Homo sapiens: one gene and its partners. The protein of the gene in region 3 purifies or fractionates together with the protein of the main gene of each other region. This does not show direct contact. Each region holds a gene or a part of one and is shown on either strand. Other genes may lie near its edges. The genes, in order: SCCPDH, FAF2, PEX19, LETMD1, MUL1, FAM174A and MYO5A.

Region 1 (3,500 bases), about 86 Mb from region 3:
TTTTGTATTTTTAGTAGAGACAGGGTTTCACCATGTTGGCCAGGCTGGTCTCAAACTCCCGACCTCAAGTGATCTGCCCACCTCAGCCTCCCAGAGGTTTGGGATTCCAGGCATGACCCACCGCGCCTGGCCCTCAAAGTTCCATCTTCTAACCCAGTGGTCTCCCAAGTAGTCTTCCCCTAAGGGAAGCGCAGAATGATCCACTGAGGGTGGAAGTAAATATCAGAACTTTTATCCATGTTAATGTTTACAAAAACATGACGTTCCGTTAACGGTTACTATATGGACTGACTACGAGACATTCCCTGGGCCATGTTAAGTGGTCATGTGTTGAAGACAGGACACAGCAGGTATCCTGATGGGGTTGTGGGAAAGTTTCCATCACACAGAGAGGGCCTCAGCACCACTCTTCATTCATTCAGTCGTTTTCACTTTACTGCAACCTAATGCCTGAATGAGGTTATTGAGGTTCTAAAGCTTAAACGCTGAGGCCTCAAGCATTTAGAGTGGGGAGGACAAAGACGCAGTGGAGGAGACGAGGACTTCCAGGGTGAAGCTGGTGGACAGGAGGAAAACTACGAGAAGATGACAACGTAGAAGCTGAGCAAAGAAAGGAGAAAGTGGTCAGCTGGATCGAATGCTGCAAGCTTTCAGATGAAGACTGGATTTGACAGGGTGGGACTTTAGCAGAGTAGTTTCATTGGAGGAGGGAGGAAAACAAAAGCCCAATAGGAGGCGTTTAAGATAGAGTAGGAGGTGAAGAAGCAGAGATAGTGAGTCATGAGAATTCTTCCAAGGAGGCTGCTAAAAAGGGGGCACAAAAAGTAGAGTAGTTGGAAGGGTATGTGGAATCAAGCAGCTTTTTTTAAAATATGGGAGATATCACATATTTAAATGCTGATTGAAATAATCCAGTAAAGAGGAGAAATTTGATAACAAGATAATGTGTAATTGTAAACATAAAGTGTTACAGGAAGTCAGGGACCCCGAACAGAGGGACCAGCTGAAGCCACGGCAGAAGAACATAAACTGTGAAGATTTCATGGACATTTATTAGTTCCCCAAATTAATACTTTTATAATTTCTTACACCTGTCTTTACTGCAATCTCTGGACATAAATTGTGAAGATTTCATGGACATTTATCACTTCCCCAATCAATACTGTTATAATTTCCTATGCCTGTCTTTAATCTCTTAATCCTGTCATCTTTGTAAGCTGAGGATGTATGTTGCCTCAGGACCCTGTGATGATTGAGTTATCCGTACAAACTGTAAAACATGTGTCTTTGAACAATATGAAATCTGGGCATCCTAAAAAAGGAAGAGGATAACAGCAATTTTCAGGGAACAAGGGAGATAACCATAATGTCTGACTGCCTGCGCGACTGGGCAGAAGAGAGTCATATTTCTCTTCTTGCAGAAAGCGAATAGGAGAAATATCACTGAATTCTTTTCCCAGCAAGGAATAACCCTGGGAAAGGAATGCATTCCCAGGGGGAGGTCTCTAAAATGGCCGCTCTGGGAGTGTCTGTCTTATGCAGTTGAAGATAAGGGATGAAATACACCCTGGTCTCCTGCAGCACCCTCAGGCTTGCTAGGATTAGGAAATTCCAGTCTGGCAAATTCTAGTCAAACTGGTTGTCTGCTCTCGTACCCTGTTTCCTGTTAAGATGTTTATCAATGACAGTGCGTGCCCAGCGGGACATGGAACCTCATCAGTAATTCTAATTTTGCCCTGGCCTTGTGATCTTGCTCTGCCATTTGCATTGTGATACCGTATTGCCTTTTGAAGCATGTGATCTCTGTGACCCACTCCCTATTTGTACACTCCCTCCCCTTTTGAAATCCCTAATAAAAACTTGCTGGTTTTGCAGCTCAAGGGGCACCACGGAACCTGTCAACAAGTGATGTCACCCCCAGAGGCCCAGCTGTAAAATTTCTCTTTGTACTCTTTCTCTTTATTTCTCAGACTGGCTGACACTTAGGGAAAATAGAAAAGAACCTATGTTGAAATACTGGGGGCTGGTTCCCCCGATAATAAAGTCTTTGAAAACTGTGCCCAATAGGAAGAGGACCAGTTTTTCCTTGTAACAAGAGATATGGCAGACTACAGGGTATGATGCAGATTGGCAGACAGGTAGGTAGGTAGATAGATCTGGTGGTAGGAAGATGAAGAAAGAAATTCTGTTATTAACCAGCTTCTATTTTCATAGTTAAAAAAAAAGAAAAATAAAATCAGATAAGAACAAGGAAAGAGAGACGGGATACTAAAAGTTCAAGGAAAACAAGGTTGTGAGCTGCTTCAGAGAGCAGGAGAGAGAATTCCTGAGGGAAATAGAGCAGAGCTGCCGGAGGTGCTAAGCACCACACAACGTTTGTAAACACATATTTGAAGTGTGACCAGTTAGCAGGGGGATACATTTTTCTCCAGCCACACTGTGTTACTCATGTTCAGGTGAAGAGCAGGCAGAGAATAACCAGGGCTGGGATTTTTCCAGAGTACTGAGGAGAAAAAGGCAAGGGAGATAGATGAGGGCGTCCATTATAGAGTGCAGCAGTGGACCTCATGGATGGAATCTAAGCTAGTTAAGAATGAGATGAATCTAAATCAACAACACTTCTATTTAATAGCAATTCAAAAACCCTTTTGCTCTCAATTAAAAATTATTAATATTTTAGATATTTAATTTTTAAACATCTTGCCAACTGTGATGGCTTCTTCAGATCACTAAATGTCACCAACATTCACCTTGTTACACAGGCCAAAAGTCTGATGGCCTGTGACTTGATGACTTTTTCACAGTACAACAGCAAAAGCCGTTCTCCTTTGAAAATATACTCTGGACCTAACTACTTCTCAGCACCACTACGACCCCAGGGCTTGTGCTTGCACCATTCCATTGCTCATCCTTTGTTATCTACTTTTCCACTCAGAAGCCAAAGAACTTCCAATTTAAATCAGCTGAAGCCCTTCCTTTCAACCATTCAACGCCTCTTGGTCACACCTGGAAAAAAAATCCACATCCTGGCCATGGCCCGTAAGATCCCACATGACCCAGCTCCCGGGTTGCTCTCTGATCCACTCTCCACCTCTCTGCCATGCCCAGCCACACTGGCCTCTGTCACACTCTTCAGTCTTGCCAAGCACACTGGCATCTCAGGACCTTTGTGCCTGCTGTCCCTGGAAAAGTCTCTCCTCAAAAGGTTCATGCAATTTGCTCTCATTTCATTCAGATCTTGGCTCAAATGTCAATTCCTCACAGAAACCTTCCCTGACCATCCATCTAAAAACACCAATATGCCAGGACCTTTTCTCCTTTCTTGGCTTCACTTTTCTTCAAAGCACTTTTCATTACCTCCTATTACAATCCTATTTTTCTGTCTTCCCCAAGAACGTAATGTCCACGAGGGATTTTCTGTTTTGTTCACCATTGTGTCCCAGGTGCCTACAATAGTGCATTTCACATGTGGTAAGCATCAATAAATATTTATTCAATAA
Region 2 (3,190 bases), on a different chromosome or scaffold from region 3:
TTGCAAGGACACAAGTTGGTTCCAACAAAAGTGACAAATTCCTTAAGAAAATGTTATTCCAAGAAAATATTCTTACAAAATACACTCCCATAGAAGGGGAACAAACACTTAATGACATCTACATATCAGGAGCCTCATATACATTTACTTGATTGAATCTATAAACCTATCCTGAGGTGGACGGCATTATCTTCATTTATAGCTGGGGAAATTCAAGTTCAGGGAAGCTAGAGAATTTGCCCGAGGTTGCAAACCTGACAAACTAGAGAGCCCAAATTTGAACCCAGGCCTGTCTGCTCTCTCTCTCCATCATACTAAGTTGCTATTTTTCCACAGGGATACAACAGAGAAGACCTAACTCCATCCTTCTCTTTGACTCTCCCTTCCTTCTTGGCAATGCCATGCCATGCTGTTCCCTCCCGGTGTTTTTCAACCTCTCCTTCACACATAGAAAATTATCTACCACATCGGTCCCACACAGAAAGATCCACAGCCTGTTATGAAGTTTTTGCTATAAAACATTTAATGTTAACCTACAATACAATGTAAACTTTTATGAAAAAAATTTAAAGTACACTAGATTTCTTCAGTAAATTATCACATGACTATTCAGGCGCAGTACAAGTTGGGGCACTGCATCCTTTGTGGATGGATTTCCGTTGCTGTGTTCCTCACAAGTCCTAAAAAAACCAGTTGTAGAGCGGAGCTCCTTGTTCAAGCACCGGATAATGATGCCCCTGATTTTGCATTCTGGGGGTTATCGCTCCTTCTCAGTCATTTTCTGAAACTCTTTGCTTGGCCTTGGCACCATTAGCAATTTTCACAACTGCTCAATTGAAGGTTCTAGGTTCTTTTTAGCTTAGTTTTTAAGAGACAAGTGTTATCCTCTGGCCATCTCTTATTCAAATATCATGGTGGAGGCAAGCAAGGAGAAAGAAGTATTTGCTAGAGGAAATTCTGCAGAAGTGGAAGAAAAGACCAGAAGGGCTCCACTGAGGGTACAAATATTCAACTGACTCCAATCGAGTGTCTTTGCTTGGTCACTTCCCATGGTTATTCAGCTCAATCTACAACTTCAGTCGTGGGAGTGCAGAACAAAACTTGAAACAAGTGCTTTTAGTTGATGATTTGCCATTTGGAAACAACAGCTGAAATATCCCAGAGGTGATGTGGAAACAAGAGCAAATGCTTGCAGATCACTGGCTTCTCAGTGTCTTCTCCCTCGCAGGTCTCATCAAAATCCCAAAAGTCCTTAGGAGTAACACAGATTGTACTGGCATTAAGTGACAAAATGTGCAGCCTGTATTTGACTGAGGAGGAAAGGAAATGGCACCTAGGCAGCAGCGCTAGGGTCAGCAAGGAGACCGGCCTAGGGTCTCAGTAAAGCAGAACTGTTTCAAATGGGACTAGACCGGGGCATGTGCTTCCGGTGAATCCTCTTGAAACCTAAAGTAAATGGGAAGGCCGCCCTAACAGTTGTACTGACATAAAGGGAGACCCTTCTTAATATTCTGGCAGCTGACTTCCTTCACTGAACAACTATTATCAAAAGGCGAGAGGCATAAAGTGCACACTGTAGAATAAGAAGAGACTGAATTATGATGGAAAAAAAAAATCGTAACTTCCCCAAAGAGGTGTGGACAGTGTACCTAGCCTCACAAAGGTCCTTAATACCCTCCTGTGTGCTGCCAGGGAACAGCTGTGAATTCCAGATGGGGAGGAAGGCTCTGACTTAAGTGGAAAAATTCCTCTGCATGGTTGTCAGCAGGAAGGTTTCACGTAAGGTTATCCTTATGTGGAGAACATGGGTTATCCTGCTGTTCACGCCAGATACATTTTATTGACAGCAGTCAGATGGTGATTCCACTCATCTGGCCTTGGGACAGCAGAAAACGAAGTGGAAGAACAATAGCTGGCCAGGGACAGAATTAAATTTTCCTAGAGATGGTGTTCTAGACAGCTATGCCAAGGCCACTGGGAATTTCTCAGGCTCTCCAAGTTAATTTCTGTGGGGTGCCTTACTCTGCCATGTGGGATTTACCCCAACAACTGAGGACTGCAGTGGATAGTAACCATATAATTGCTACCAAAAACAGTGGTCCTTAGGTTTTAGTTAAGCAAGAGAGAAAGCCTTGAGACTACAACTCCAGCAAGTTAGGCTTTATGTTGATCTGAACCCCCCGCCCTCACAGCATTCTAGGAACTACAGTAACGTCAGTCGGTTGCAGTGGTACAACGAGCCTGCACCAGTCTAGCTACAGAACACTTTGGAATACTTGTCAGAGCGCACTGGCATCTGTTAATACATGGCCTGACCCATGTACCCATTACCATAAACTCAACCACAGACGAGACATCCAGAGGTTAAAAAAAACCCTATTACTTCAACATAGCAATAGAGAGAAAGGATAAAAGCTGCCTCCAGAAGGTGGCTGCATCAGAAATGAAAATGTGCCTTCCAATAGATTACACAGGCTGGGAGTTCTGTCTTGGCTCCCTTCAAGGCCTCTGGTTCTATCCTTAAAACAATAATACACTTCCACTGAGACAGGCAGGGCACTCTCCTGTGGTTCTGCTGGCTCCACCACAGGCCCTGCTAGTCCTTTGGAAAGGCACCAGGCTTGGCAATTCAGGAAAGCCCAGGGCTGGGGGGAGCAGCATGCACATGTCAGAAGAGGAATGAAGAGCTGCTATCCTTTGGTTCAGACCCCATAACCACCACCTGGTACAGACTCCAAGGAAAAGCTGCAGTTGTGTGTAAAGGTGAGTTCCACCACATACATAGGTGTATCTTTACATATACAGCCTTTGTGGGGCCACAAACCCAGATTTCCTCCCACTGCTCCAAGTGGGGTGCACAGGTGGTAAGAAAGGACAGCAAGAGTTGGACCAAAAAGAATGACCTCTCTGGGAACGTGAGAGGGACAATGGCAGAAATAAGCACAAACCAGCCCGGGGCACTTTTATTACACTATTGTGGGCTAAGGAGCCCAGGGCATAAACTCATGGGTTTAAAGAATTGGCTCTTTATCAAATAAAGGAAAAAAATATATATATATACCTATGTCAGCCTCATTCCTTTGGTCATTACAAAACAGAAATAAAAGTTATTGAAAACTTGTGGGCAGTTCAAGGAACATCTCTGCTTCTCTGCTCTGTGCTTTCTCTTCCCTCTCTTCCCCAGAGGCAG
Region 3 (2,914 bases):
GATGTTCACCTTTACGTCCAGGGTCTTTGTGCCTTGTCTCTACTCCCTCTCTTGGATCTGGGGAGGAGGGGCAGAGACCTGGGACTCTGTATTTCTATAGTTCTCCTGGCAGAGCCTTTGAGAATGGGGAGAAACAGCCTGGGCTGGGGCTACAGGTCTGTCACTATGCTCTCTTGCCTTCAGACAGACCATTCTGAATTCTCTAAAGGGAAAGGGCTTTTGCATCTAATCACAATAGAGTTGAAAGAGAGGCCTTAGGATTCTCCTCTCTCTAGGTGCTGAGCCCTCACCTCCCTGTTCCAGGCTGAGAACTCAAATGGTTACCCTGCTTCTTCCTACAATGCTGTGTGATATGGGTGAACCCAGCCCCTGACCTTCCTCTATCCCCTGCCCATCCTCCCTTTTACCTCCTCTCTTTTTTAAACACCTGTTTATCCCAACCTTTTTGAGCTCAAGCTGTGATAAAGAAGGGCCCATCCTATTTCCCCTCATCTAGTCCATTTACGATTCTCACTGACTCCCCGTCTTCCTGGCAGACACAAATAAACCCAGTGTCAGGTCTAGGAAATTAATGGCTATTCTTCCCCAGATACATTCTGGCTTATTTGAGATACATGATTCTCTTAGAATCCTGTCCCTTGGTTCAGGAAAGTAGCTTGGAAAAGGAGTAGGGGTATAGCTTGGGTCCCTTTTCCTGCAAGGCCCCATGGGGCAGAATATAATAAATATTCTGAGTGAGGAGTGTGGTCTTTTTCTGATCTTCCTCAGCTTCCGTAAGTTGCAGAGTGAGGTATATTAGGAGACTAGTTCTACACAATATTGTAATGCTGGGTTCCATCAACACCCACCTTCCACAACTCAGTCTGCACCTCAGTTGGCAAAGGAGACTGGATGGCCATCTTTCCTCATGTTCCCTTGAGTATTTCAATGTAGAAAGCCCTTCAAGTGGTATTATATTTTAACCTTTTACATTATTGTTATTAATGTTAGTAATATATTGTTATGTTTTCTAAATTATTTTTCTTTAAGCTGACGTGGCTTTTTTTCTGTGGCTCCCAGTGGGTCTACGGACCTTGGCTGACATATGTTGGTAGGTACTCTGGTCAGCTCAGCTGGCTGTCCTGGTTCACTCAGAAGATAAGTCTCTCCAAAGCAAATTCACATGCATTATGAGTCGCTTTGAGCTTCTGACATGTCACTTGCCCCGAGGTTAAAACTTTTCACCCCTTGAAGACCTTACATGTTTTATGGTATTGGTGAGGAAGGAAATGTTCTCAAGGTCTCAGGCTATTTGGGAAATTCCAACTCCTATACCTTACCAGAGCATGGAAGAGCCCAGATCTGAATGTAAAACGTCTCTGTTCTGCCAGAGATGGAAAAAATACAGGTATACTTGTGATATAGTCATGGGGCTTCAGTGTCACTATTTTCTCCTTAAAGCTCCAGCCAAAAACTGGACAAGGATAGAGAGGAGGAGGGAAGAACAAAAGAGCCCTTCTCTATGAACCTTGTGCCTTCTGTCCTACCAGTTTTCTTTTACAGATTCTCACTTCTGCTAGCCTAGCCAGGGCTTACTCCAGGAATCTAAATAGATGCCCTAGTCCACTTTATCTTTGTTCCCAAGGCACTCATTTTTATTTTGATTTTGATTGAATGTGAGCAGGTTGACCTCAGGTCACACTTTGTTCCAAAAACTTTTGGAATTATTCCAGGACTTGTGGTGGAGTTATGGTACTCTAGGGCAGTCTTTCTCAAACTATGTATGGTAAAGGACCAGGTTTTTTGTTTTCCAGTCCTTCACTTATCAATATGCATTCCTATTGCCCATGACAGGTATGGAGTTCACACTGTGTGCTGCCGACCCGGCAAGTTTGACAGCACCCAAACTGGCCAGACTGTTCTGTAGGTTAAGTCCATTGATCATGTACTTGGATATCACAGCAACATTGAAATGCTAAAAAGTTTTTAAACACTCTCAATTTCTAATTCACCATGTCACAGACTGGTGAAAAAAAAAAAAAGGTGTTCACTGACCAGCACAAGTCTGCAGATCATCTTTGAGTAGCACTGTTTTGGGGCCCTCGGTCTCTCTGAAGACCCTAGCAGAACTGATACCTACCTGTATCTCTTGTTCTCTCCTATTTGAGTTTCACTTCCAGAGAACTTGTTCTTCAGCAAGAATGTGTCACTAGTAAGGACATCTCTAGCATTTCTCTAGCCTTCCTTTTCTGCTGCTCAAAAATAATCGTTACAAAGCTTAGGTTTAAGCTGTATATGAAATATTTATGCGACTCTCAAACTTTAAAGGAGTTGCTCCTTTGTTCCAAAATTAAATGTGTTAGATAAATTTGTGATTGTATGGGTGGCTTCATGAATTAAGAATTGAATTAATACAGACTTTTTGATAATTGGGACATTTTCCTGTGACTCTGGAAGGTCTTGTCAAAGCCCCATGAGGCAGTTATAATATGATGTTAAGATGGCTTTGGGGAGCTAGGAGAAAACATTGGCCCATATTGAATGACGTGGAGACGGCAGACCATACAAAAAAGGACCAAAAGACTTAGAGGAAATGGGTATGCAAGAATGAATGTTATATAACACTGGTAAACCCACCAGCTGACTACCCCAGAAAGACCTGGGAATTATTTTTTAATAAAGACAATGGGAAAGGCACTGATGAAGGGTTACCAGCATCTTTGAGAAATTTAGAAGTGGCTGTCTCTCTAGATCGAAGCTGATACAAGATGTAAAAGAAACTGTTTTCCTAGTAGCAGTGGGGGAATGATAGGATCCTGACATAGCAGAGGCCAGGTGGCAACACTTAACTCTCAGAAGCAAGGTGAGTAAATTTCCTTAAGGGTAGCAAGGTCAAAGTGGAGATGGCTAACGGAATGTGAGTGGTCCTAGGAGC
Region 4 (3,500 bases), on a different chromosome or scaffold from region 3:
ACCTGGCCACGATTTGTTTTTTAATTTATTTATCTACGTGTTTGGTGGTTTTAAAACATGACCTCAAATTCTCTGGCACTTGTCTCATGGAGAGCTGAGGTCTACATCCTGCCCTTTTTTCATTCTAGGTGACTGATTCAATCAATAGGACAGAGCAGCAGTGACTCTATGTGACCTTCAAGACAAGGTTATAAAGTCATGTAGATTCTTACTAGAACCCCTCACTCTTGGAGCCCTGAGCTCCCAAGTTAGAAGTCCCACTATCTTGAGGCTGCCATACTGAAGAAGCCACATCTGGGCACTCTGGTTGACAGTTCTAGCCGTGTAGCCATCCCTGCCAGGGCACCAGACATAAGAGTGATATTGGACTTTCCAGACTAGTCCATTCAGCAGCTAAATATCACTAAGGGACCTCTGTCAACCCTATATGGAAGAGAGAAATCAACTGCCCACCTGAGCACTGCCCTAATTCTTGAGCTACAAAATCATGAAAATGATTTATACGATTGTTTTATGCTATTAAGCTTTGAAGTTATTTGTTATACAGCAATAGATAATGAATGACATGCAAGATCACAGTTAAGAAATGTCATTTTTGGATATGAAGTAATAAAAATGTTATCAGAATACGAAATGTACTTTTCCTAAAGAAATTAGTCTAAAAGTACTCTCTCTCGGGGAGAGAGCCTCTAGGGATGATGGAGAAGGTCACTATCTTATTTCACATGACTCAGGGCAGCTAAGAGATAGGGAGAGTCTAGGCCACCTACACTTATAGCTGTGATGTGTCACAGTAACCAAGGTCTTCCTAAGTGGTTTTTATGAACCTTGGAATAATGAGAAGATTGGAGCAGAAGTTTGATAACCTCTGCCTATCTTCTGAAATGAGTGCTGTTTAAAGTAATTCTTAATTTAAAAAAATTGATACATCTTCAAGATGTTGGGGAGATGGAAGTCTGTACTCACATTAGCAAGAAGACCAGGTAGTTGGCAAAAGGTGGAATGGAAATAATACCTAGGAAAAGACACTTGGTGACGTCTTGGCGGAACTAAGCAGAAATAAACACAGATGCAGTTTTAACCCAAATAAGTTGTTAATACAATAGACAATCCATCCACCCCACTGTACAGTAAACTTCTATTACAGCCCAGAAAAAGGACCAAATTTCTTTCTTTTTCTTTTTGAGATGGAGTCTTGCTCTGTCACCTAGGCTGGAGTGCAGTGGTGCAATCCTAGCTCACTGCAACCTCTGCCTCCTGGGTTCAAGTGATCCTCCTGCCTCAGCCACCCGAGTAGCTGGGATTATTGGCATAAGCCGCCACTCTAGGCTAACTTTTGTATTTTTAGTCGAGACAGGGTTTCACCATGTTGGACAAGCTGGTATCAATCTCCTGACCTCCAGTGATCTGCCCGCCTTGGCTTCCCAAAGTGCTAGGATTACAGGCATGAGCACTGCATGTGGTCCCCAAGTTTATTTCTATTTACTTCTGGATGGTTAGTTCCTTGAGGACAAAACCTCTGACTTATTTACTTTTGTATCCCAAATAATGTCTAGTACAGAGCCTGACATTATACCAAATCCTTCAGTGAACTCTTCCTGATCTGCGGAATGGGTCCTAGATTCTTACTCTCAGCTTCAAAACGACCCATCAAGTCACCACCAAATACTACTTTCATGCTGCCCTTTGGATCCTTGCAGACTTTTTTTTTTTTGAGACAGAGTTTTGCTCTTATCACCCAGGCTGGAGTGCAGTGGCGCGATCTTCACTCACTGCAACCTCCGCCTCCCAGGTTCAAGCAATTCTCCTGCCTCAGCCTCCCGAGTAGCTGGGACTAGGACTACAGGCGCCTGCCATCATGCCCAGCTAATTTTTGAATTTTTAGTAGAGATGGGGTTTCACCATGTTGGCCAGGCTGGTCTCAAGCTCCTGACCTCAGGTGATCCGCCCACCTCAGTCTCCCAAAATGCTGAGATTATAGGCGAGAGCCACTGTGCCTGGCTGCCCTTGCAGACTTCTATTTTCATTTTATTATTATTTTTTTTTGAGATGGAGTCTTGCCCTGTCACCCAGGCTGGAGTGCAATGGCATGATTTTGGCTCACTGCAACCTCTGCCTCCCGGGTTCAAACGATTCTCCTGCCTCAGCCTCCCGAGTAGCTGGGATTACAGGCGCCCGCCACCACACTCAGCTAATTTTTGTATTTTCAGTAGAGATGGGGTTTGACCTTGTGGGCCAGGCTGGTCTCGAATTCCTGACTTCGTGATCTGCCTGCCTCGGCTTCCCAAAGTGCTGGGATTACAGGCGTGAGCCACCGCGCCCAGCCCCCTTGCAGACTTTTGTTATGTTCAGAAACTAATTAGATTTTAGTATTTACAACTTTCATTCAGAAAGTGTGCCAGAAATTCTATGGAGCTCTTGCTATGGAGGGCTACAACTCTGGATGAACCCAATTCTTACAAATAATCTGATGCCTCATTCAGTTCAATATTTTGTTCTCACGGCAAAGGGCAAAAGCTTGATCAATGGTGAACAACAAATGAAAGAAAAAACCTTGAGATCTTGATTAAATGTAATTACCTCACCATGAACTTCTGGATATCTGCCCCTGGCCCATACCTGTCTCAAATGCTCCATCTCCCGGTATGGAAGTTGATGAAACTTTATATTGTGCTTCCACATATTTGTCTTTATTCTTCTAGCCTTTTTGGCATCAGCCCATAACATCTGCAATCCTGCCTCATTAAAGTAGAGGACAGAGTGTGATGTTATCCCAGTTTAAATCTTAACCACAGCTTCCTACTCCATGTTCAATCACATGCAAACACTCTCACCCCTCCCCAACGATACTCAAAGCTTTAAACTAGGTAACTTGAAACTCCTGAGGTCAACTCGAATCTCTTTTCTCAACATTTTTTCCCCTAGCACATCGCCTCTCTTCTAGCTACATTTGGCTTCTGTAATCTGCTATGGAATGGTCTCCCTCTTCTGTTTCACTGGTCACTCCTTTTTAAAAATCAAGCTCCCTAACTTCAGAAAGTCTTGCTAAATTAACCCTATGTATTCCCCAGCCAGATATTAATTTAATCTCCTTTCTGGAACTTTTTTTTTCTTTTTTTTGAGATGGAATCTCACTTTGTTGCCCAGGCTGGAGTGCAGTGGTGCGATTTCGGCTGACTGCAACCTCCACCTCCCAGGTTTATATAATTCTCCCACCTCAGAATCCCAAGTAGCTAGGATTACAGGCGTGTGCCACCATGCCTGGCTAATTTTTGCATTTTTAGTAGAGATGGGGTTTCACCATGTGGACAGGCTCGTCTTTAACTCCTGACCTCAAGCAATCCACCTGCCTCGGCCTCCCAAAGTGCTGGGATTACAGGCATGAGTCACTGCGCCCGGCCTGGAACACTTATTTTTGTTTTTGAGATGGAGTTTTGCTCTGTCGCCCAGGCTGGAGTGCAGTGGCGCAATCTCGGCTCACTGCAACGTCCACCTCCTGA
Region 5 (3,102 bases), about 140 Mb from region 3:
GTGGAGAAGTGATACATACCAAAGGTGGGTGGTTCGATTCCACACCATCTTGTGCTCCTGAAGTGTCAGCCGCTGAATTACCCCCTTGCAGTTTTCCACAAACTGGCTGTTAAGCGTTTCTTTAACAGACCGCACAGCTCCTAAGTGGACACAAATTCTATTATTTCTGAAGAAGTTTTCTGCCCTCTCCTTTCAGATAATTTAAAATGTGTTTTCTGGTCTGGCACAGTAGGTCACACCTATAATCCCAACACTTTGGGAAGCCAAGTCAGAAGGATCACTTGGGGCCACGAGTTTGAGACCAGCCTGGTTAACACAGTGAGATTCCATCTTTACAAAAAATTAAAAAGTTAGCAGGGTGTGGTGGCATGTGCCTGTAGTCCCAGATACTTGGGAGGCTGAGGCAGGAGAATCACTTGAGCTCAGGAGTTTGAGGCTGCAGTGAGCTATGATCACACCACCATACTACAGCTACCTGGGTGACAGAGCCAAGACTCTATTTGAGACGGAGTCTCACTCTGTTACCCAGGCTGGAGTACAGTGGTGCAATCTTGGCTCACTGCAACCTCCGCCTCCCGGGTTCAAGCAATTCTCCTGCCTCAGCCCCCCGAGTAGCTGGGATTACGGGTATGTGCCACCACATCCAGCTAATTTTTGTATTTTTAGTAGAGACGGGGTTTCATCATGTCGACCAGGCTGGTCTCAAACTCCTGAGCTCAAGTGATCAGCCCATCTCAGCCTCCCAAAGTGCTGGGATTACAGGCATGAGCTACCACACCTGGCCTCAAAAAAAAATTTTTTTTTTAATTTAAAAAATGTTAAAAATTAAGTGTTTTCAGTTGACTTTTGCTAATTCATCAAAACAATGACATTCTGATCACCATAAGTCACATTTTAGAAGCACTCTCCTAAGCACTTTGCATGGATCACATAATTTGTCTTATAACAACCCCATAAAGGTAAGTATTATTTTCGAGATCAGGCAACAGTGGTTCAGGGAGGTTTGGTAATCTTAGCGATCACAAAGCAATAACCCATGTCTTTCTGACCCCAAAGTATGTTCTGGACCATGGACCCAACACCACAAAAGGCTCTTCATATTAGCCAAGATGATCTTTATCAATCTTTTGGGAAAAAGACGTTGTTTTCCATTGACCAATAAGCAAACATACCTTCTATAACAGCATAAGGCACGCATTTTCCTGGAGCTTCTGAAAGAATACTCTTTAAATCTTCACCCAAATGAACTTTTTTAGCTCCCTAAATAAAAAAAAAAAATTAAATTAATTGGCCATTGAACACTGACATGCTCAATCAAACTTACAGGCAAAAAAAAGAAAAAGATTCTATTTTTTTCGTGTCAAGAGAATATGGAAATTGGACAGGAAGGTGACTACTGAGAATCAGATTTCAAAGCTGTGTACATCAACAGGAATGGAGCCATGCCTCTGCCTCTTCCATCACTGCAGAATGGGGGTGCCACATACATTCTTGTTCCAGTTAACCAAAACCTATACTCCTTTTCATGTTAAGACTTTTTAGTGAAAATATAAAAGGTACTAGTCAATTTACATACCACAGACTGAACATCATTCAATCTCTTCCTGACAACACAGAGCTATGATCCAAAGGGTTCAGGTATAAAGTACCTAACCTATCACCTAGCACATGGCAGTGGTTTGAGAACTGGTAGGTGTTATTATTAATATTACCACATCTTTACGAACCAATGCTCTGCATTGTATGTTATTAAAAAAACAAAGCAGGGGGAGTTGCCTTTGCTTCAACAGGAAGACTGTTAACTGGTGCCAAATGCCATTCTACATTTTTTTTTTTTTTTGAGATGGGGTCTCACTGTTATACCCAGACTGGAGTGCAGTAGTGCAATCATGGCTCACTGCAGCCTCAACCTCCCAGGCTCAAGTGATCCTCCCACCTCAGGCCCCCAAGTTGCTGAGGCCATAGGCATGCACCACCACACCTGTCTAATTTTTTTATTTTGCAGAGACAGGGTCTCCCAATGTTGCCCAGGCTGGTGTTGAGCTCCTGAGCTCAAGCGATCCTCCTGCCTCGGCCTCCCAAAGTGCTGGGATTACGGGTGTGAGCCACCGCACCCAGTCTGTTCTACTTTTTGCCTTTTTCATGCTCATAATTAAGTGAGCACGGTTCTTTCTGCTGCTGTCTTCCTCTAACAATCCCTAGTTCTCCTCTGCCTTCCAACTCAGAGCGTCCAACCCACTGCACTTGGGAAACCAATCCTGTTACTGCTGTTTCAAAAATAAGAGAAAAGGAATAAAATCAACAATCATTTCCTGAGCATCTTTGTGCCAGGCACTGTGCTGGGTGTCAGAGATTCAGGACGAATAAAGGACCATCTCTGCTTTCAGGGTATTCCCAAAAACAACTCTTAAGGATGCCAGATTCAGTAACCTCTAAAGAGGTGATGTGATACAAGATGTATATGAAGGTCACTCTGAGTTTAAGCTACTGCTACACAGTAAGTGACAGGAGCAAGGTCAATCAAAATTTCTTAGCCACTTACACTGTGAAGATACCAAAATGACAGCAATAACAACTAACAATTTACTCATTATCTGTCTCCCTCCACTAGAATGTTAAACTCTAGGAGGGCTTGGACACTGTTTGTCCTGTTCACTGCTATCCCCCTAGTGCGGAGAACTGTGCCTGACACACAGCAAGCATTTAATACATTATTTGATTAATAAATTAATGAATAAGTAAGCATTTAAATATACTATGTACCAGGCAATATGCTAGGCACTTTAAATGCATAAACCACTTAATGCCCACACCATCCCTTTACGGTAGACATTATTATCACCAATTACAGACAAGGAAACAGGCTCAGAGAGGTGAAGTGATTTGCCCAAAGTGAGACAGCTAGTAAAGTATCCACCACAGGATGGCCAATTCGAATTTTAAAGGGGGAAGAGGGAGAATATGATCAGAAAGATCTGGAGTTTAATCTAGCGCCAATGCATCCACTGTGACTTGGGACAACTTCATTTATCTGAGTCTCAGGTTCCAAAACCATAAAGGACAGGGAAAATGCAATTTCACAGGATTTTTATGTGGGTTAAA
Region 6 (3,500 bases), on a different chromosome or scaffold from region 3:
ATTTACATTGGCATTTATTCTATACTCATGTCATTTTATTTATCTAAACCTCTTAGGAAAGGTCTTAACACTTACTGAGAATAGATCTCAGTATATATATTACAGCTACATGATCAGACCATAAACAATTAGTCCCCCAATTCTGCAAGGCAGCACTATTTACAAACACTAGAACCCAAACTAAAAAGAAAATATCTTCAGAATACAAAAAGGAAATTAAATTTAATAAGTATTTCTCTCTCACACACACACACACAAACACACACGCACACAAACACACATGCACACACACACCCAAGTTAATACATATTGCAAGAATGAAGAAGTTAATGGGTCCTAGGCTTAATAACTGGGTGATGAAATAATCTGTACGACAAAACCACATGACACAAGTTTACCTATGTAACGACCCTGCACTTGTACCCCTGAACTTAAAATAAAAGATAAAAACAGAAGAATAAATTAAAAAAAATATTTTGAGATGGTATTCTATTGTTTGTATCTATTTGAGCAAAACAACGTGAATGTGAGCTATGGGGTAGATAGCAAAAAGAACTTCAGTAAACAGAACTGAAGAAACTGTGTTGGAATATAAGCTGTTAAATGAAAGTCTACTTTACTTCTTCAGTTTACTTGGCAAGGACTTGCTTCCTGATTCATGGAATTAAACTACTGGAATACTTACCTTCGAGGATGATTGGCATCAAACAACGTGTTGTCATCATCCTCATCATCCTGTTCTAAAGGTGTCAATTCCATATTTTCTATGTTAGTGTCCAAAACTCCATATCTCCTAGTCTTTCGGTTTCTTCTTCTCATCCTATCAAATAGAACAAATTAATGAATAAAAATTATTTAATATGGCATAGTTTATATTTATTTATAAAATAAATTATTATTCTGTTTCTGACATAGCAAACAATATCAGAATGGTTACATTTCAGATATGCAACAAATTTACCACCTAGGATTAAACTTCATGAAACAAAACCTACTCCTACATGTTTATGTGCCATCGCCTGTTTCTTCTGTCTGACATACTCTCTTCTCTCTGTGTCAACTGATGGTGTTGACAAATAACTTTTAAGCCTTAAATTCAGGTACCGTACTTTAAACCTTAATTTTTAAAGGCTTAGGTCAGGTACTTCTTTACTGAAACCTCCTGCTCCAGCCTTTTCCCCATGTCCTCCCCGCTTTCTTACCACTGTTTAGATGCCCCTCTAAGAAACTGTATGTATATGCATATTCACAGACTAAACTGATAGCCCACAACTCTAGCTGCACACTAGAATTACCTGGGAGTATTTTTTAAAGTCCCATGTTTAGGACATAACTGAATCAAAATGTACAGCAAAAAAGAACTAAATATGAATATTTTGTTGAGGTTCTAAATGTGATTCCAATGTGATATAAACCATTATCTGAGATCAGTGGTTCTTGCAGTGTGGTTCTCTGGATCAGCAGAATCACAGTCACCTAGGAAGTTACGAGAAATGCAAATCTTCATGGCTAGCCCAGACCTAGTGAATAACAAACTTTGAAGATGGGGCCCAGAAACCTGTCTTTTAACAAACATTTCTTATGCTTTTGATGCATATTCAAGTTTGAGAACCACTGGCTTAGAGAAATTCAAAAGATTCAAGGGTGCTTAACATTCATTATTAGCCATATGAATGAAATCTCAAGATTTAGAGTCCTACTTCCAGTTTGTGTCTCAAATAACTTGTTCTTTTCCTTCAAATCATTTACCTTAATTTGCATTCCTATGTGCTGATGTATATGTTTATGTGGGGTTTATTCATCTGTCTCTCCCACTAAGTTCTCTGAGGGCAGCAACCAAGACTGCTTTATTCACCACTACATAACCACTTCCTAGCACAGTGATGTATCAATTAAGATGTTCTTCAATTAATTGTTGAGGGTCTGAGTGACTTCTACTTTGGCGACCAAAACTGTGACCCTGCAAGGAATGCCTAAGTCATCTCCAATGCAACAACTTCAACTCCACAGACAGCAAAATGTGTTTCACAAGAGTGTCCACTGGAGTTTGAAAATAAATAGAAAATATTTCAGCAAGTTATCACAAATAAAATCAGTTTACATAAATTCTGATTTACTCTGTTTGACATATGTGGGATAAGAAATACTTGGGCTATAACATCAACTGTAAAGAGCAACATGAGACTCCTCAAACATGACAGTGAAGCTCCTGGAAAACAAACATACCTTCAACAAATAATTGAGTCTTATTAAGCATCAGGTATGATATTAGCACCTGGGTGTAAAGTGCCTGGTCTCAGTGTTAAAATTTACAAAATGTTACTAAGTGTGAGTACAAACAAAGAAAATTTCCACCAGTCATTACCTATAGAGCTATCTATATACACGTCTAAAGTGATGGAACAGGAAACAGAGAGTTAAGCATAGCATTTAAAGTTACAAATGTAACCAATGAAAGGGTCAGTAAATATTAGTACTAGCAAAAATGAAGCAGTATGAAATACAAAGTACTCTTTCTTTCACAGTGAGAAATTAAGTATGTTTAGGTTGTTACATTAACATGTATATGTGTGTGTATGTGTGCAAACACACCCACACACACCATGTAGACCAGAGGTCTAAACTTTCTCTATAAAAAACCCAGGCAAACAGGGTCTGGAGTGGACCTCCAGCAAACTCCAATAGACCTGCAGCTGAGGGTCCTGACTGTTAGAAAGAAAGCTAACAAACAGAAAGGACATCCACACCAAAACCCCATCTGTACGTCACCATCATCAAAGACCAAAGGTAGATAAAACCACAAAGATGGGGAAAAAACAGAGCAGAAAAACTGGAAACTCTAAAAATCAGAGTGCCTCTCCTCCTCCAAAGGAACGCAGCTCCTCACCAGCAACGGAACAAAGCTGGAAGGAGAATGACTTTGACGAGTTGAGAGAAGAAGGCTTCAGACGATCAAACTACTCCGAGCTAAAGGAGGAAGTTCGAACCCATGGCAAAGAAGTTAAAAACCTTGAAAAAAAATTAGACAAATGGCTAACTAGAATAACCAATGCAAAGAAGTCCTTAAAGGACCTGATGAAGCTGAAAACCATGGCAAGAGAACTACATGACGAATGCACAAGCCTCAGTAGCCAATGCGAACAACTGGAAGAAAGGGTATCAGTGATGGAAGATCAAATGAATGACATGAAGTGACAAGAGAATTTTAGAGAAAAAAGAATAAAAAGAAACGAACAAAGCCTCCAAGAAATATGGGACTATGTGAAAAGACCAACTCTACGTCTGATTGGTGTACCTGAAAGTGATGGGGAGGATGGAACCAAGTTGGAAAATACTCTGCAGGATATTATCCAGGAGAACTTCCCTGGATAGGGAAGTTCTAGCAAGGCAGGCCAACATTCAAATTCAGGAAATACAGAGAACGCCACAAAGATACTCCTCGAGAAGAGCAACTCCAAGACACATAACTGCCAGATTCACCAAAGTTGAAATGAAGGAAA
Region 7 (3,500 bases), on a different chromosome or scaffold from region 3:
AAGGCAGTGTCTCTCTCTGTCACCCAGGCTGGAGTGCAGTGGTTCGATCTCATTGCAATCTCCGCCTCCCAGGTTTAATCGATTCTCGTGCCTCAGCCTCCCGAGTAGCTGGGATTACAGGCAAGTGCCACCACGCCCGGCTAATTTTTGTATTTTTAGTAGAGACAGGGTTTCGCCATGTTGGCCAGGCTGGTCTCCAACTCCTAACCTGAAGTGATCCGCCCACCTTGGCTTCCCAAAGTGCTGGGATTACAGGCGTGAGCCACCGCGCCCAGCCGAGATTAATTCTTAATAAATTAAGAAGAGAGAAAACCTGTCAAGGTTGAAAATATGCACTGAAGGAATCAGATCTGGTAGTTAAAAATAAGTCACTTCACAGAACACTGTACCCTGACGCAATATCCACCCAGGGAAAATTAATGAGCACATCAATGTAATACATCCTGAATAAATAATGACATCAACAATAGCCACTTTGTCTAATCCTACCCCTAAATGTCAAGCATTTTGTCATATTACTACATGACTTTCCAGTGTCTGCTACTTGTGCAGGTGAATCTGTAGGTATTTGCATATAATCCAGTTAAAACTGTGATCTGATTGAATTGTAAACAGAATTGACAAGAGAAACTTATTGTAGTGCCTAATATCACTTACATTTTAAGAAGACAGTATGTAGCAGCAATTTAAAATGCTCAGTAAACTATAGTACAAATGGACATCTATACTATTTAGCAAACCAACATTCCTTTAATATCTCTATATCATAGTGACACAAATGAGGAATTACTTTACATATTGCCAGTTTATTTCTTTGAACCAGTTTAACAATATCAACATAATTGATTACTAAACTGACATGATATGTACTCAATGGAGACTTTTCTTTCCATTCTCCTGTTTAGTGCAGAGGAGGTTCTTTGGTGCCTTCCTAACAACAGCTCATCTATGGAAGTTATACTTTTTATACCATTCAAACTCAGTGCTAAGGATTTAAAATAAATGCTGCCAGCTGAAGACACATTTTTCTCCTCCTTTCCTTCCTCCCTTCCTTCCATCATTCTCCTGTATGTAAACTCACGGTACCTAGTTGGTTAAGGATGAGTGTTGCTATAAAGATAACACAGCACGAAAGAGCCTATCTTTGTTTCCAAAGTGATGAAAGTATTCTAGGGAGATTTCCAGTTAATGACTTCTCATTTGGGAGATAATCAGTACTTTCTCTTTAAAAATGTATTTTCAGTAACTCACTGGAAATAATGGGTTCTTATTTCGGGCAAGAAATGTATTGTCAATTTTTGCCTGGACATCACTTTCAGACCCGTGAAATGAAGCCCAGGCCGAGGCTGGCTGGAATCTGGATGGTTTCTAGTGCGAGGGAAGATGGGTTGAAAGGAAAGGTGACAGGAAAGATGTGTTTAGCATCCATGAGCAGCTGGGGAGAGTCTTTCCTGTCTCGTAAACGCATCTGAGAAGATTAGGAAAAAAAATAAACAGAGCATCAGTTCTTTGAATCTAAAAGACTTTTTTCTACTAAAATTTCTACCCTCAAATTCTCAACTAATGAAGAATGTTTACTTTTGTTTTAAACTCACTTCATTTTCCCAATTAACTATTATCAAAAAAGTTAGTGCATTGTAAAATAAGATAATAAAAGATAACACATTATCCTTCAATAAATTACAAAATGTCCATTCAAAAGACTGTGTTGGTGAATCAAAGAAGAAGATGGGAGCTCTTACCTGTATAGTACGAATGAACGACACAGAGACTCTTTCTTCAAACTCATTAACTGGAGTATACAAATTCAACACTTTCACAATCTGTGAGAAATGAAATGATCAAAGTTTTTGGCATATTATCAAATACACACTGGGTACCTATAATCTGGAAAATTAAAAGGATCTGTGCGTACAGATTTCAGTTCTACTCAGGGGTGGGCTGGGACCAGAAGGAAGGAGGAGCTGGTCTGCACATTTACCTTTATCTGAATTTTTACAAGAGAATGTATCAATGTAATGTTTGTGTAATATTGTAAGAAGCTGTGTAAATTTCGAAGATATTCAAATAGCACAAGAGAATAAAACATGAAAAATAAATGTCCGCACTTCCATCCTTCCAGTCTCCCAAAGTGGCAATTGTTAACCATGTCCTGAACACCCCCTCTAGCTGCTATAAATATTCTAGTTCATTTTATTTTTATACAAATGGGATTCATTCTATTAATACTATTCTGCAACTTTTCTCCATATAAAAATGTTAGCCGTATTAATACAATTATCTCTTTTGAATGTTTTTTAAATCATATTTTTATAAAAGATCATAAATAACATGAATAACAAAAGCCCCTAAAGAAATTAATCAATTAGAGAGTATGAAGTTCTTTTTTAAAAAGTTCAATAATTTTTTTTTGTAAAATGGTCATGTCTCTTTTCTAATGAAAATAAATCATCGTCTATATAAGGTAGATATTTCCATTTTCAAGGTATTGTCTAAACCTGTGCTGTCCAATACAACAGTAGTAGTCACTAGCCACATGTGGCTATTAACACAAAATGAAAATAAAAGTTGAATGCAGGACAGTGCTGATCTATAGGAAAATAAATTAAGCACCAGAGAACTAGAAAGTGGGCATGTTGTTATCAGGTCTGTGGGTGACAAACTGAATTAGGGATCAGTCTCTCGGAGGCAAGTATTTGAATTTTAAAAAGTGGGACCACTTTGTTAACTAATATTTGCTAAATAAATAAACTGCAGGTCTGCCTCACTCTGTGAAATATGCTTAAAGTATATTTAAGTATTAAAGTATATTCTTTAGAAGTTGAATGGCAGCCAACTTCTATAAAGTTGGGCTTCCTCCAGGGTATTCTTACTTTCCACACTTGCAGAAACTGGGAGGAAATCTCAGGACCATTGTTCTGTCAGATAGTTCTGCTTTATTCTTAGTAAGAAGTTATGCAAACATGAATTCAACATTAAGAAGCTGCAAGTCTTGATTCTGATTGTCTACTGATTGACTTTTTTTTTTTTTGAGATGAAGTCTCTGTGCAGTGGCACAATCTTGGCTCACTGCCACTTCTGCCTCCCAGGTTCAAGTCATTCTCCTGCCTCAGCCTCCCAAGTAGCTGGGATTACAGGCACCCGCCACAATGCCTGGCTAATTTTTGTATTTTTGTAGAGATGGGGTTTCACCATGTTGGCCTGGCTGGTCTTGAACTCCTGACCTCAGGTGATCTGTCTGCCTCAGCCTCCCAAAGTGCTGGGATTACAGGTGTGAGCCAGCACGCCTGGCCTACTGATTTTTTCTGTTGCCCAGGCTGGAGTGCAGTGGTGCAATCTTGGCTCACTGCAACCTCCGTCTCCCAGGTTCCAGCAATTCTCCTGCCTCAGCCTCCAGAGTAGCTGGGATTACAGGTGCCTGCCACCATGCCCGGCTAATTTTTGTATTTTTAGTAGAGATGGGGTTTCACCATGTTGGTCAGGCTGGTCTCAAACTGATT

What was found.
Region 1: the proteins of PEX19 (region 3) and SCCPDH purify together in Homo sapiens (affinity purification with mass spectrometry; 4 studies listed by BioGRID and IntAct, with this or other methods). This does not show direct contact.
Region 2: the proteins of PEX19 (region 3) and FAF2 purify together in Homo sapiens (affinity purification with mass spectrometry; 6 studies listed by BioGRID and IntAct, with this or other methods). This does not show direct contact.
Region 4: the proteins of PEX19 (region 3) and LETMD1 purify together in Homo sapiens (affinity purification with mass spectrometry; 4 studies listed by BioGRID and IntAct, with this or other methods). This does not show direct contact.
Region 5: the proteins of PEX19 (region 3) and MUL1 purify together in Homo sapiens (affinity purification with mass spectrometry; 3 studies listed by BioGRID and IntAct, with this or other methods). This does not show direct contact.
Region 6: the proteins of PEX19 (region 3) and FAM174A purify together in Homo sapiens (affinity purification with mass spectrometry; 4 studies listed by BioGRID and IntAct, with this or other methods). This does not show direct contact.
Region 7: the proteins of PEX19 (region 3) and MYO5A purify together in Homo sapiens (affinity purification with mass spectrometry; 3 studies listed by BioGRID and IntAct, with this or other methods). This does not show direct contact.

The regions. Positions count from the first base shown.
Region 1 is NC_000001.11:246,727,409-246,730,908, reverse strand, and holds part of SCCPDH (saccharopine dehydrogenase-like oxidoreductase), read right to left. Parts: intron 1-3,500.
Region 2 is NC_000005.10:176,507,385-176,510,574, reverse strand, and holds the end of FAF2 (FAS-associated factor 2), read right to left. Parts: 3' UTR 501-3,190; downstream 1-500. UniProt on the Homo sapiens protein: Plays an important role in endoplasmic reticulum-associated degradation (ERAD) that mediates ubiquitin-dependent degradation of misfolded endoplasmic reticulum proteins.
Region 3 is NC_000001.11:160,276,307-160,279,220, reverse strand, and holds the end of PEX19 (peroxisomal biogenesis factor 19), read left to right. Parts: 3' UTR 1-2,414; downstream 2,415-2,914. UniProt on the Homo sapiens protein: Necessary for early peroxisomal biogenesis. Acts both as a cytosolic chaperone and as an import receptor for peroxisomal membrane proteins (PMPs).
Region 4 is NC_000012.12:51,051,327-51,054,826, reverse strand, and holds part of LETMD1 (LETM1 domain-containing protein 1), read right to left. Parts: intron 2,740-3,500; exon of another isoform or gene 2,736-2,739; coding exon 2,620-2,735; coding exon of another isoform or gene 2,581-2,619; intron 1,050-2,580; coding exon 967-1,049; intron 1-966. UniProt on the Homo sapiens protein: Plays an essential role for mitochondrial structure and function, as well as thermogenesis of brown adipocytes.
Region 5 is NC_000001.11:20,502,050-20,505,151, forward strand, and holds part of MUL1 (mitochondrial ubiquitin ligase activator of NFKB 1), read right to left. Parts: intron 1,261-3,102; coding exon 1,173-1,260; intron 141-1,172; coding exon 20-140; intron 1-19. UniProt on the Homo sapiens protein: Exhibits weak E3 ubiquitin-protein ligase activity. E3 ubiquitin ligases accept ubiquitin from an E2 ubiquitin-conjugating enzyme in the form of a thioester and then directly transfer the ubiquitin to targeted substrates.
Region 6 is NC_000005.10:100,559,374-100,562,873, reverse strand, and holds part of FAM174A (membrane protein FAM174A precursor), read right to left. Parts: intron 821-3,500; coding exon 686-820; intron 1-685.
Region 7 is NC_000015.10:52,312,381-52,315,880, forward strand, and holds part of MYO5A (unconventional myosin-Va), read right to left. Parts: intron 1,824-3,500; coding exon 1,743-1,823; intron 1,469-1,742; coding exon 1,316-1,468; 3' UTR 1-1,315. UniProt on the Homo sapiens protein: Processive actin-based motor that can move in large steps approximating the 36-nm pseudo-repeat of the actin filament. Can hydrolyze ATP in the presence of actin, which is essential for its function as a motor protein. Involved in melanosome transport.